3 linked regions of the Homo sapiens genome follow. The protein of the gene in region 1 purifies or fractionates together with the protein of each later gene. This does not show direct contact. Each region holds a gene or a part of one and is shown in the gene's direction. Other genes may lie near its edges.

Evidence for each region.
Region 2: the proteins of EIF2AK1 (region 1) and CCDC127 purify together in Homo sapiens (co-immunoprecipitation; one large-scale study listed by IntAct). This does not show direct contact.
Region 3: the proteins of EIF2AK1 (region 1) and POLD1 purify together in Homo sapiens (affinity purification with mass spectrometry, with the first as the bait; one large-scale study listed by BioGRID). This does not show direct contact.

Annotation. Positions count from the first base shown.
Region 1 is NC_000007.14:6,024,834-6,028,195, reverse strand, and holds part of EIF2AK1 (eukaryotic translation initiation factor 2-alpha kinase 1), read left to right. Parts: intron 1-1,234; coding exon 1,235-1,468; intron 1,469-3,362. UniProt on the Homo sapiens protein: Metabolic-stress sensing protein kinase that phosphorylates the alpha subunit of eukaryotic translation initiation factor 2 (EIF2S1/eIF-2-alpha) in response to various stress conditions.
Region 2 is NC_000005.10:211,581-215,228, reverse strand, and holds part of CCDC127 (coiled-coil domain-containing protein 127), read left to right. Parts: intron 1-3,648.
Region 3 is NC_000019.10:50,404,837-50,408,484, forward strand, and holds part of POLD1 (DNA polymerase delta catalytic subunit), read left to right. Parts: intron 1-1,345; coding exon 1,346-1,486; intron 1,487-1,570; coding exon 1,571-1,681; intron 1,682-2,146; coding exon 2,147-2,338; intron 2,339-2,490; coding exon 2,491-2,579; intron 2,580-3,648. UniProt on the Homo sapiens protein: As the catalytic component of the trimeric (Pol-delta3 complex) and tetrameric DNA polymerase delta complexes (Pol-delta4 complex), plays a crucial role in high fidelity genome replication, including in lagging strand synthesis, and repair.

The DNA of each region.
Region 1 (3,362 bases):
TACTGTAGATAATTAACTGGATCAAACTGTCCTAAGAAGAAACCTCACTTTTCAGTAGACTCTGTGTTGCCTACTTTACCATTTCAAAATCCACAGATGTCACAATTTTTTTGTTTGTTCATTTGTTGTTTTTGAGACAGGGTCTTGCTCTGTTGCCCAGGTTGGATTGCAGTGGTGTCATCATAGCTCATGGCAGCCTCCAACTCCTGGGCTCAAGTGATCCTCCCACCTCAGCCTCCCATGTAACTGTGACTTCAAGAGTTGTGCTACCACACCCAGCTAATAAAAAAAATTATTTGTAGAGATGGGTCTTGCTTTGTCCAGGTTGGTCTCAAACTCCTGGCCTCAAATGATTCTCCTCCCTTGGCCTCCCAAAGTGCTGGGATTAAGGCATGAACCTCTGCGCCTGGCCTAAATCGATTTTGAAATGAGCTTTCCCTTTAAAACATCACTGTTCACCTCAGGAAGCTAGAATTCATGGAAGCCTGTTTTCAGCCTTTCTTCTCATTGGTTTTTTTCAAGCTTTGGTAAATAAACACCAAGGGGAAGCCTGCCCCTTGACTCCCCTTGAAATAGAACGAACATGCTGTAAAGTTTGAATCTCCCTTGTTCCTGGAAGAAATGCTAAAATCCATTTTTCAAAACAACAGGCTAGTAAAATTTTCTTCCTTTTGATGGCGCATTGAGCTTTTTAGTGATTAGGAAAGAGCTGTCAGAAAAAATGATGGCTGCCCCTAAAATCTTGTTTAGTGAAGACCTTCCTAAAAAATCTGTTTTTAGGAGTAGTATCACAGATTTTATGCAGTTTGTTAAATGTCACCAAGGACACTTGGTAAGAATGAGTGGAGGCAGAGGTGAGACCGGAGGAGAACCCGCGACCTTCTGTGGCTCCCCCGCAGCTGACACTAGCAGGCGTGAGCTCACATCATTGCCTGGGTCAGGCCTGGATTGTTAAGGGGTGCTGAAGACAGTTGTATGGTCGTGACTGCTGTGGGTGGGGATTATCCCTGCCCTCCACCTGACCATCCATTCTGCGTGCCCACGGATGCCCCTTTTTGAGGTTGTGAAAGTCCCTGTCACTGATGAGCTATCCTGCTCTGTTCCCTTCCTTGTGGGTGACCGTATATCCTCATTCTTAGAAACCCTCTCCTGTTTGGAGGGTGGAACACGGAAATGGAAACGTTCTTCTAACTTTGTATTTCACTACTGAGTTCCCCTTTTTTTCTTTTTCCAGTCAGATATGTACAGCTTGGGTGTGGTCCTGCTAGAGCTCTTTCAGCCGTTTGGAACAGAAATGGAGCGAGCAGAAGTTCTAACAGGTTTAAGAACTGGTCAGTTGCCGGAATCCCTCCGTAAAAGGTGTCCAGTGCAAGCCAAGTATATCCAGCACTTAACGAGAAGGAACTCATCGCAGAGACCATCTGCCATTCAGCTGCTGCAGAGTGAACTTTTCCAAAATTCTGGAAATGTATGTGCTTTTCTTTCTCTTGGTCCTGGAGTGAAGGTGGTTTTTATTGCCTCTCTTGGGGAAGGAAGCGGTTGGGTGGTGCCCCCGGAGGCTGGGGCTGGAAGAGCCAGATGATGGTTCTGGAGGCGGGGCCTGTTTGTTCTCGTCCACTTCCTGGCACTCAGCTGCAGGGTGTGCTGGCAGGACTCACTCCCCTTGGGGTAGCAGCTGTGGCCTCAGCAGGCACAGGAGGTATCTGCTGGTGTTCACAAAGAGGAGCGGAGGGCTGGGGGCCAACCCCACAGCGAAGGCCGGTAGGAAACTTCCTGGGGCCTGGTGGGTGAGACTCCTTCCCGGAAAGGCCGGAGGGGCCCGCAGGGTTTGCACCTTCTCATGGCTAGGCCTTTAGATGTCCAGGTCAAACTCTGACCCTTCACCACCTGCCTGCTGTTCTGGGCTGTCTGTATGTCTGCCGGGGGCTCATCACTGGCAGGGCTGGTGACCCCGGAAGTGGTGGGCGGGTCCCTCGAGGGTGTTTTGGTCACTGGTGAGTTCAGCACTCTATTGGGAATTTCCAGTTGTACATGATCCTGGTACCTCCCCGGGTAGTGCTGAAGAGTGTGCCCGATGGGGTTGCTGCATTCCCTGCGCAGTACACAGTCATTGGACCACCGGGGAGAGGCAGGGGTGGCCTGGCGTGGGGGTCCGGCTGCAGCTGCTGCCCTGGACATGGTCTCTGTACATGTTTTTTTTTTAAATGCTGAGGAAAATATGAAGCTTAAAATAGAATTTGTTCAAATTGTGAATCCTGGCCAGGCGGGGTGGCTCATGCCTGTAATCCCAGGCATGGGATTTTGGGAGGCAGAGGTGGGAGGATTGCCTGATGTTAGGAGTTCAAGACCAGCCCGGCCAACATGGTGAAACCCCATCTACTAAAAGTACAAAAATTAGCCGGGCGTGGTGGTGCACACCTGTAATCCCACCTCCTTGGGAGGCTGAGGCAGGACAGTCACTTGAACTGGGAGGCGGAGGTTGCAGTGAGCTGAGATCACACCACTGTACTCCAGCCTCGGCGAAAGAGCGAGACTCCGTCTCAATATAAATAGTGAACCCTGTTTCAGTGAATAGTCGAGCTTAGACTCATATTTGTGCAAACAAAATATTTAAACCCATTCTCAGAGTTCCCTGACTGTATCAAGCACTAGGTTGAATACCAGTAGCATGCTTATATTCATTGTCCACGTAAGCAGGTTGACTCCCCACCGCCTGTCTACTCTAAGAGTTACAAGCATTGGGCGTGGTGGCTCACGCCTGTAATCCCAGCACTTTGGGAGGCTGAGGCAGGCGGATCATGAGGTCAGGAGTTCAAGACCAGCCTGACCAACATGGTAAAACCCCATCTCTACTAAAAATACAAAAATTAGCCGGTGTGAGCTACCATGCCCAGCCACAGATGTGGTTCTTGAAACCAAGTATAAACATTTATCTTCATATATGAAGGGGATTTTCTGATGCTCAGTTAAGATAGCTATTAGAGACCATAGTTATTTAGTATTTATGGTAAGGATTTCTACTATCTTGCAAAAGTTTTTTGTATAAAATGAAACCTTGGCTGGGTGTGGTGGCTCACACCTGTAATTCCAGCACTTTGGGAGGTCGAGGCGGGTGGGTCACTTGAGGTAAGGAGTTTGAGACCGGCCTGGCCAACATGGCGAAACCTCATCTCTACTAAAAATACAGAAACTAGCTGGGCTTGTATGAGAGCGCCTGTAATCCCAGCTACTTGGGTGGCTGAGGCACGAGAATAGCTTGAACTGGGGAGGCACAGGTTGCAGTGAGCCAAGATCATGCCACTGTACTCCAGCCTGGGCGACAGAGCGAGACTCTGTCTCAAAAAAAAAAAAAAAAAGTTATT
Region 2 (3,648 bases), on another chromosome or scaffold:
GTTCTTGTAAGGATTCTCCAAAGGTGTGTTACGATGTGTTTGAGGTTCTGTTGCACATAGGAGCGTTAACCAGCCCCTAGTGTAGTCTAGAAGAAGAGGCAGACATATGAATACTTGATAAGCGCTATTGGTTGATTTATTGATGAGAGGCTAGTTTTGTCCTGATCACTCGCTTCATTTACTAGAATTTTTTTTTTTTTTCGAGACGGAGTCTTGCCCTGTCGCCAGGCTGGAGTGCAGTGGCGCGATCTCGGCTTGCTGCAACCTCTGACTCCCTGGTTCTAGTGATTCTCCTGCCTCAGCCTCCCGAGTAGCTGGGATTACAGGCGCCCCTCACCACGTCCAGCTAATTTTTGTATTTTTAGTAGAGACGGGGTTTCACCACATTGGCCAGGATGGTCTCGATCTCCTGACCTCATGATCTGCCCGCCTCGGCCTCCCAAAGTGCTGGGGTTACAGGTGTGAGCCACCGTGCCCAGCCCATTTACTAGATTTTTACTTAACATAACATAGAAATGTGTGTAATTGTGCTTGCCCGAAAGAGCAGTCCCTGGAGAAATTCTTACCCTGAGTAGCTCCCAGGGGAGAATATTCAGTATTTCAGCACTCCAGAGGGCTTCTCTCTCTTCACACCTCCTCTGTCATTCTGCTTCCCCCCTTTTCTCTCAGTCTTCTTGATTGCCCTTTCCCCATCTCTCTCTCCGTGCTTTTCCCATCTCTCCGTGCTTTCTCCCCTCTAGTGTTCCTGTACCTCCTGTTTCCTCCCCTGACCCAGAAAACATAGTTTTAGAGCTGAAAGGGACTGGTTGAGTTCACTGGGCCCAACTCAGTTTCTTTTAATTAAATATTTTATTTTGGGGTCATGTAAATCACATGCAGTTGTCATCAGTAATGCAGAGAGCCCGTGTACCCTCTACCCAGCTTTCCCCAGTGGAAGCATCTGCAAAACGATAGTGCAGTGTCACAGCCAAGACATCTGCCAGGATGCGGTCAAGATACCCCAATCCCTGGGGCCTCACGTGCTGCCCTGTGTACCGCCCCTCCCTCCATAGCCCCCGGCAGCTACTGATCTGTTCTTCATCTCCAGAACTTTGTCATTTCAAGAATGTTATGTAAATGGAATCAAACAGTATATAACCTTTCGGGTTGACTTTTTTCATTCAGCATAACCCCCTGAGGTCCATGCAGATTGTTGCTGTATCAGTAGTTCATAGATAGTTTCATTGCTGAGTCGTGTTTTATGACATGGACGTACCACAGTGTGTTTAACCACTGAAAGACATCTGGGTCCTTTCCAGTTTTCAGCTGTTATGAATAAAGCTCTTATAAACATTCTTGTGTAGGTTTTTGTGTCGATGTAAGTTTTCATTTCTCTCGGATAAAGGGCCAGAAGTGAAATTACTGGGTTTTATGGAGGTTGCACGTTTAGTTTTTTAAGAAGGGCTGAAATGTTTCCCGAGTTGCTGCACCGTTTTAGGTTCTCACCAGCAATGCAGAGCTGATCGGTTTCTCCACCTGGTCAGTATTTGGTGTTTCACTGCTGTCCCGTCTGCCCCATCCTGATGGGTGTGTGGTGCTGTCTCATCGTGGCTGCAGCGTGCAATGTCGAGCATCAGCGTGCTCACACTGCTGTCCCGTCTGCCCCATCCTGATGGGTGTGTGGTGCTGTCTCGTCGTGGCTGCAGTGTGCGATGTCGAGCATCAGCGTGCTCACACTGCTGTCCCGTCTGCCCCATCCTGATGGGTGTGTGGTGCTGTCTCGTCGTGGCTGCAGTGTGCGATGTCAAGCATCAGTGTGCTCACACTGCTGTCCAGTCTGCCCCATCATGATGGGTGTGTGGTGCTGTCTCGTCATGGCTGCAGTGTGCGATGTCGAGCATCAGCGTGCTCACACTGCTGTCCCGTCTGCCCCATCGTGATGGGTGTGTGGTGCTGTCTCGTCGTGGCTGCAGTGTGCGATGTCGAGCATCAGTGTGCTCACACTGCTGTCCCGTCTGCCCCATCCTGATGGGTGTGTGGTGCTGTCTCGTCGTGGCTGCAGTATTCGATGTCGAGCATCAGTGTGCTCACACTGCTGTCCCGTCTGCCCCATCGTGATGGGTGTGTGGTGCTGTCTCATCGTGGCTGCAGTGTGCGATGTCGAGCATCAGCGTGCTCACACTGCTGTCCCGTCTGCCCCATCCTGATGGGTGTGTGGTGCTGTCTCATCGTGGCTGCAGTGTGCGATGTCAAGCATCAGCGTGCTCACACTGCTGTCCCGTCTGCCCCATCCTGATGGGTGTGTGGTGCTGTCTCGTCGTGGCTGCAGTGTGCAATGTCGAGCATCTCAGCGTGCTCACATTGCTGTCCCGTCTGCCCCATCCTGATGGGTGTGTGGTGCTGTCTCATCGTGGCTGCAGTGTGCAATGTCGAGCATCTCAGCATGCTCACATTGCTGTCCCGTCTGCCCCATCCTGATGGGTGTGTGGTGCTGTCTCATCGTGGCTGCAGTGTGCGATGTCGAGCATCAGCGTGCTCACACTGCTGTCCCGTCTGCCCCATCCTGATGGGTGTGTGGTGCTGTCTCATCGTGGCTGCAGTGTGCGATGTCAAGCATCAGCGTGCTCACACTGCTGTCCCGTCTGCCCCATCCTGATGGGTGTGTGGTGCTGTCTCGTCGTGGCTGCAGTGTGCAATGTCGAGCATCTCAGCGTGCTCACATTGCTGTCCCGTCTGCCCCATCCTGATGGGTGTGTGGTGCTGTCTCATCGTGGCTGCAGTGTGCAATGTCGAGCATCTCAGCGTGCTCACATTGCTGTCCAGTCTGCCCCATCATGATGGGTGTGTGGTGCTGTCTCGTCATGGCTGCAGTGTGCGATGTCGAGCATCAGCGTGCTCACATTGCTGTCCCGTCTGCCCCATCGTGATGGGTGTGTGGTGCTGTCTCATCGTGGCTGCAGTATTCGATGTCGAGCATCAGCGTGCTCACACTGCTGTCCCGTCTGCCCCATCGTGATGGGTGTGTGGTGCTGTCTCATCGTGGCTGCAGTGTGTGATGTCGAGCATCAGCGTGCTCACACTGCTGTCCCGTCTGCCCCATCCTGATGGGTGTGTGGTGCTGTCTCATCGTGGCTGCAGTGTGCGATGTCGAGCATCAGCGTGCTCACATTGCTGTCCCGTCTGCCCCATCCTGATGGGTGTGTGGTGCTGTCTCGTCGTGGCTGCAGTGTGCGATGTCGAGCATCAGTGTGCTCACACTGCTGTCCCGTCTGCCCCATCCTGATGGGTGTGTGGTGCTGTCTCGTCGTGGCTGCAGTGTGCGATGTCGAGCATCAGTGTGCTCACACTGCTGTCCCGTCTGCCCCATCCTGATGGGTGTGTGGTGCTGTCTCGTCGTGGCTGCAGTGTGCGATGTCGAGCATCTCAGCGTGCTCACATTGCTGTCCCGTCTGCCCCATCCTGATGGGTGTGTGGTGCTGTCTCATCGTGGCTGCAGTGTGCGATGTCGAGCATCAGCGTGCTCACACTGCTGTCCCGTCTGCCCCATCCTGATGGGTGTGTGGTGCTGTCTCGTCGTGGCTGCAGTGTGCGATGTCGAGCATCAGTGTGCTCACACTGCTGTCCCGTCTGCCCCATCCTGATGGGTGTGTGGTGCTGTCTCGTCGTGGC
Region 3 (3,648 bases), on another chromosome or scaffold:
CTCCGCCTCCCAGGGGGCGCTGGGGTGTAGAAGTGATTCTCCTGCCTCAGCCTCCCAAGTAGCTGGGATTATAGGCACCCGCTTCCATGCCCGACTAATTTTGTATTTTTAGTAGACAGGGTTTCTCCATGTTGGCCAGGCTGGTCTCGAACTCCCAATCTCAGGTGATCTGCCCACTTCGGCCTCCCAAAGTGCTGGGATTACAGGCGTGAGCCACCGCGCCTGGCCTATTTTTGTTTTTGTTTTTGTTTTTTTTAGCAGAGACTAGGTTTCATCATGTTGGCCAGGCTGGTCTCCATCCTCACCTCAGGTGATCTGCCCACCTCAGCCTCTCAAAGTGCTGGGATTACAGGTGTGAGCCAGTGCACCTAGCCCACATGTCCTCTTTGTGTAGTGACACCGTCGTGAGGTGAGGGCCCACCCCAGTGACCTCATCTTCACTTGACCCCCTGCGAAGACATATTTCCAAATGAGGTTACATTCTGAGGTGCCGGGGGTTAGGGCTTCAACATCTTTTGGGAGAACATGGTTCAGCCCTTAATGAGATATATTGCCTTATTTTCCTGCTTTTCTCTATGTCTGGCCAGCTTGGTAATGGAAAAACAAAACAGGCTGGGTGTGGTGGCTCACGCCTCTAATCCCAGCACTTTGGGAGGATGAGGCGAGAGGATCGATGGAGCCCAGGAGTTCAAGACCAGCCAGGGCAACATAGCAAGACCCTGCCTCTATTAAAGAGAAAACAAGAAAAAATCCATTCTAAAATACAGAACAAACTCTTAGGACCCCCAGTGTATATTCCACAGCGTGGCGCTGATGCCCGGGCCATGGTACTCCTCCTCCCCTTCCCTGGGTGTCCCTCACCCTCTGCCCTGTCCCCAGCTCAGGCTTCTTCTGGCCTCAGTCTCCCCCAGGCTGGGCCCCAGCACCCTGCAAGGCCTCCTGCAGCCAGGCGCCCTCCAGCGCCCTCAGCATCCATCTCAGCCCAGCTCCACGCCGCCTCCTGCCTCTGCCCCCACCTGGCCGCCTGCTCACAGTGTCCCCAAATCTCTTCCTGTTTCCTGCCTAGGTACAGCCCGCAGACACTGGGCTCCATCCTTGGCCCCCAGTCCATCAGGGCCCCTGACTCTCGCTATCCCAGCCTTGGCTGCAGCTTAGTCCTTACTCCGGACTCCCTCCCCAGTCTCCAGCCACCCACACCCAGCCCCAGACCGTCTTTCTGCCCCCAGGGTTGCTCTCGACCCCCTAGGGTTGTTATAAGGATGTTGTGGTTGGTCTCAATCTCCGTTCTTCAGGCTTATGTGACGGGGACCCGCAGCCTGCTGCACACCCTGCCTCTCCTCCTCAGGTACAAACATTCCCTTTCCTGGGCCGTGTGGCCGGCCTTTGCTCCAACATCCGGGACTCTTCATTCCAGTCCAAGCAGACGGGCCGGCGGGACACCAAGGTTGTCAGCATGGTGGGCCGCGTGCAGATGGACATGCTGCAGGTATGGGCGGGAGGTGGGGTGTGTCCCTGTCCTTGGAAGGCCACTGCCCAGGCCCGCAGCCCACCAGCCCACCCACCCACCTAGGTGCTGCTGCGGGAGTACAAGCTCCGCTCCTACACGCTCAATGCCGTGAGCTTCCACTTCCTGGGCGAGCAGAAGGAGGACGTGCAGCACAGCATCATCACCGACCTGCAGGTGCCTGCTGCCTCCCTGACCTCTCACCCCAACCTCTGACCTCCACCTCACCCTTCCCCGGCCTCTGACCTCAACTTCACGCCCCCACGTCTGACCTCACTCTTTGACCTGCTGTTATGACCTGTGACCTTACCTGACGCCCACTTTTTCCTGACCTCTGACCCCAGATTTCTCTCCACTCCTGTGACCTCTGTCACTATGACCTTGTCTCTGCTTTCCTGGCCTGACCACAGGTCCACGGTGGCCTTCAGGCTGCTCCCTCCTCCTCCCTCTGGCCCTGTGGACTCCCTGGCCCCCAACCCTACCTCCATCCCCACCCAGACCCTGACGACTTGGAGGGCCCTCCTGCCCGCCTCACCTCCCAGGCCCTCCCCAGGCTACCTCACCCTGACCCCCACTTCCTTCTCCTGCTCCACCTCCCACCCCCAACCCCTGGTCCCTGACCCCATCCGTGCCCATCCCCAGAATGGGAACGACCAGACCCGCCGCCGCCTGGCTGTGTACTGCCTGAAGGATGCCTACCTGCCACTGCGGCTGCTGGAGCGGCTCATGGTGCTGGTGAACGCCGTGGAGATGGCGAGGGTCACTGGCGTGCCCCTCAGCTACCTGCTCAGTCGTGGCCAGCAGGTCAAGGTCGTATCCCAGCTGTTGCGGCAGGTCAGTAGCCGAGACTTGTCCTCGCCACCCCCCACCAGGCACGTCTGTGGCCCCCTCCAGGCAATGGCATCCTGGATGCACTTTTTCTCCCCACTCCCAATCCGCACGGCCCCACCTATACCCACTCCATTTCCCACCTTCTCCCCTCCCAGGCCATGCACGAGGGGCTGCTGATGCCCGTGGTGAAGTCAGAGGGCGGCGAGGACTACACGGGAGCCACTGTCATCGAGCCCCTCAAAGGGTGAGGCCCCAGGCTGGGTGCAGTTTTTACCTGTAATCTCTGGGAGGCTGAGGTGGGAGGATCACTTGAGCTCAGGAGTTTGAGACCAGCCAGGGCAACATAGCGAGGCCCCTGCTCCACAAAATTTTTTTATTTTTATTTATTTTTATTTTTATTTTTTTGAGACAGAGTCTCGCTCTGTCACCCAGGCTGGAGTGCAGTGGCGCAATCTCAGCTCACTGCAAGCTTTGCCTCCCGGGTTCACGCCATTCTCCTACCTCAGTCTCCACAGCAGCTGGGACTACAGGCGCCCACCACCACGCCTGGCTAATTTTTTTTTTTTTTTTTTTTTTTGCATTTTTAGTAGGGACGGGGTTTCACCGTGTTAGCCAGGATGGTCTCGATCTGACCTCGTGATCCACCTGCCTCGGCCTCCCAAAGTGCTGGGATTATAGGCGTGAGCCACCGTGCCCGGCCGAAAAAATTTTTAAAAATTAGCCAGGCGTGGTGGTGCATGCCTGTAATCCCAGCTACTTGGGAGGCTGAGCTGGGAGGATGATGAGCCCAGGAGGTGGAGGCTGCAGTGAGCGATGATTGCGCCACTGCCCTCCAGCCTGGGCGACAGAGCAACACCCCGGCCCTAAAATAAATTAATAGGCCAGGCACGGTGGCTCACCCCTGTAATCAATCCCAGCACTTTGGGAGGTCAAGGCAGGCGGATCACAAGTTCAGGAGATTGGGACCATCCTGGCTAACACGGTGAAACCCCGTCTCTACTAAAAATACAGAAATTAGCTGGGCATGGTGGCGGGCGCCTGCAGTGCCAGCTACTCGGGAGGCTGAGGCAGAAGAATCGCTTGAACCCGGGAGGTGGAGGTTGCAGTGAGCTGAGATTGCGCCACTGCACTCCAGCCTGGGTGACAAAGCGAGACTCCGTCTCAAAAAAAATAAAATAAAATAAAATAGTAGATTAATTATATATATTATTTTTCTTTTTCTTTTTCTTTTTTTGACACAGGGTCTCACTCTGTCACCCAGGGTGGAGTGCGGTGGCATGATCTTGGCTTACTCCACCTCCTAGGCTCAAGCA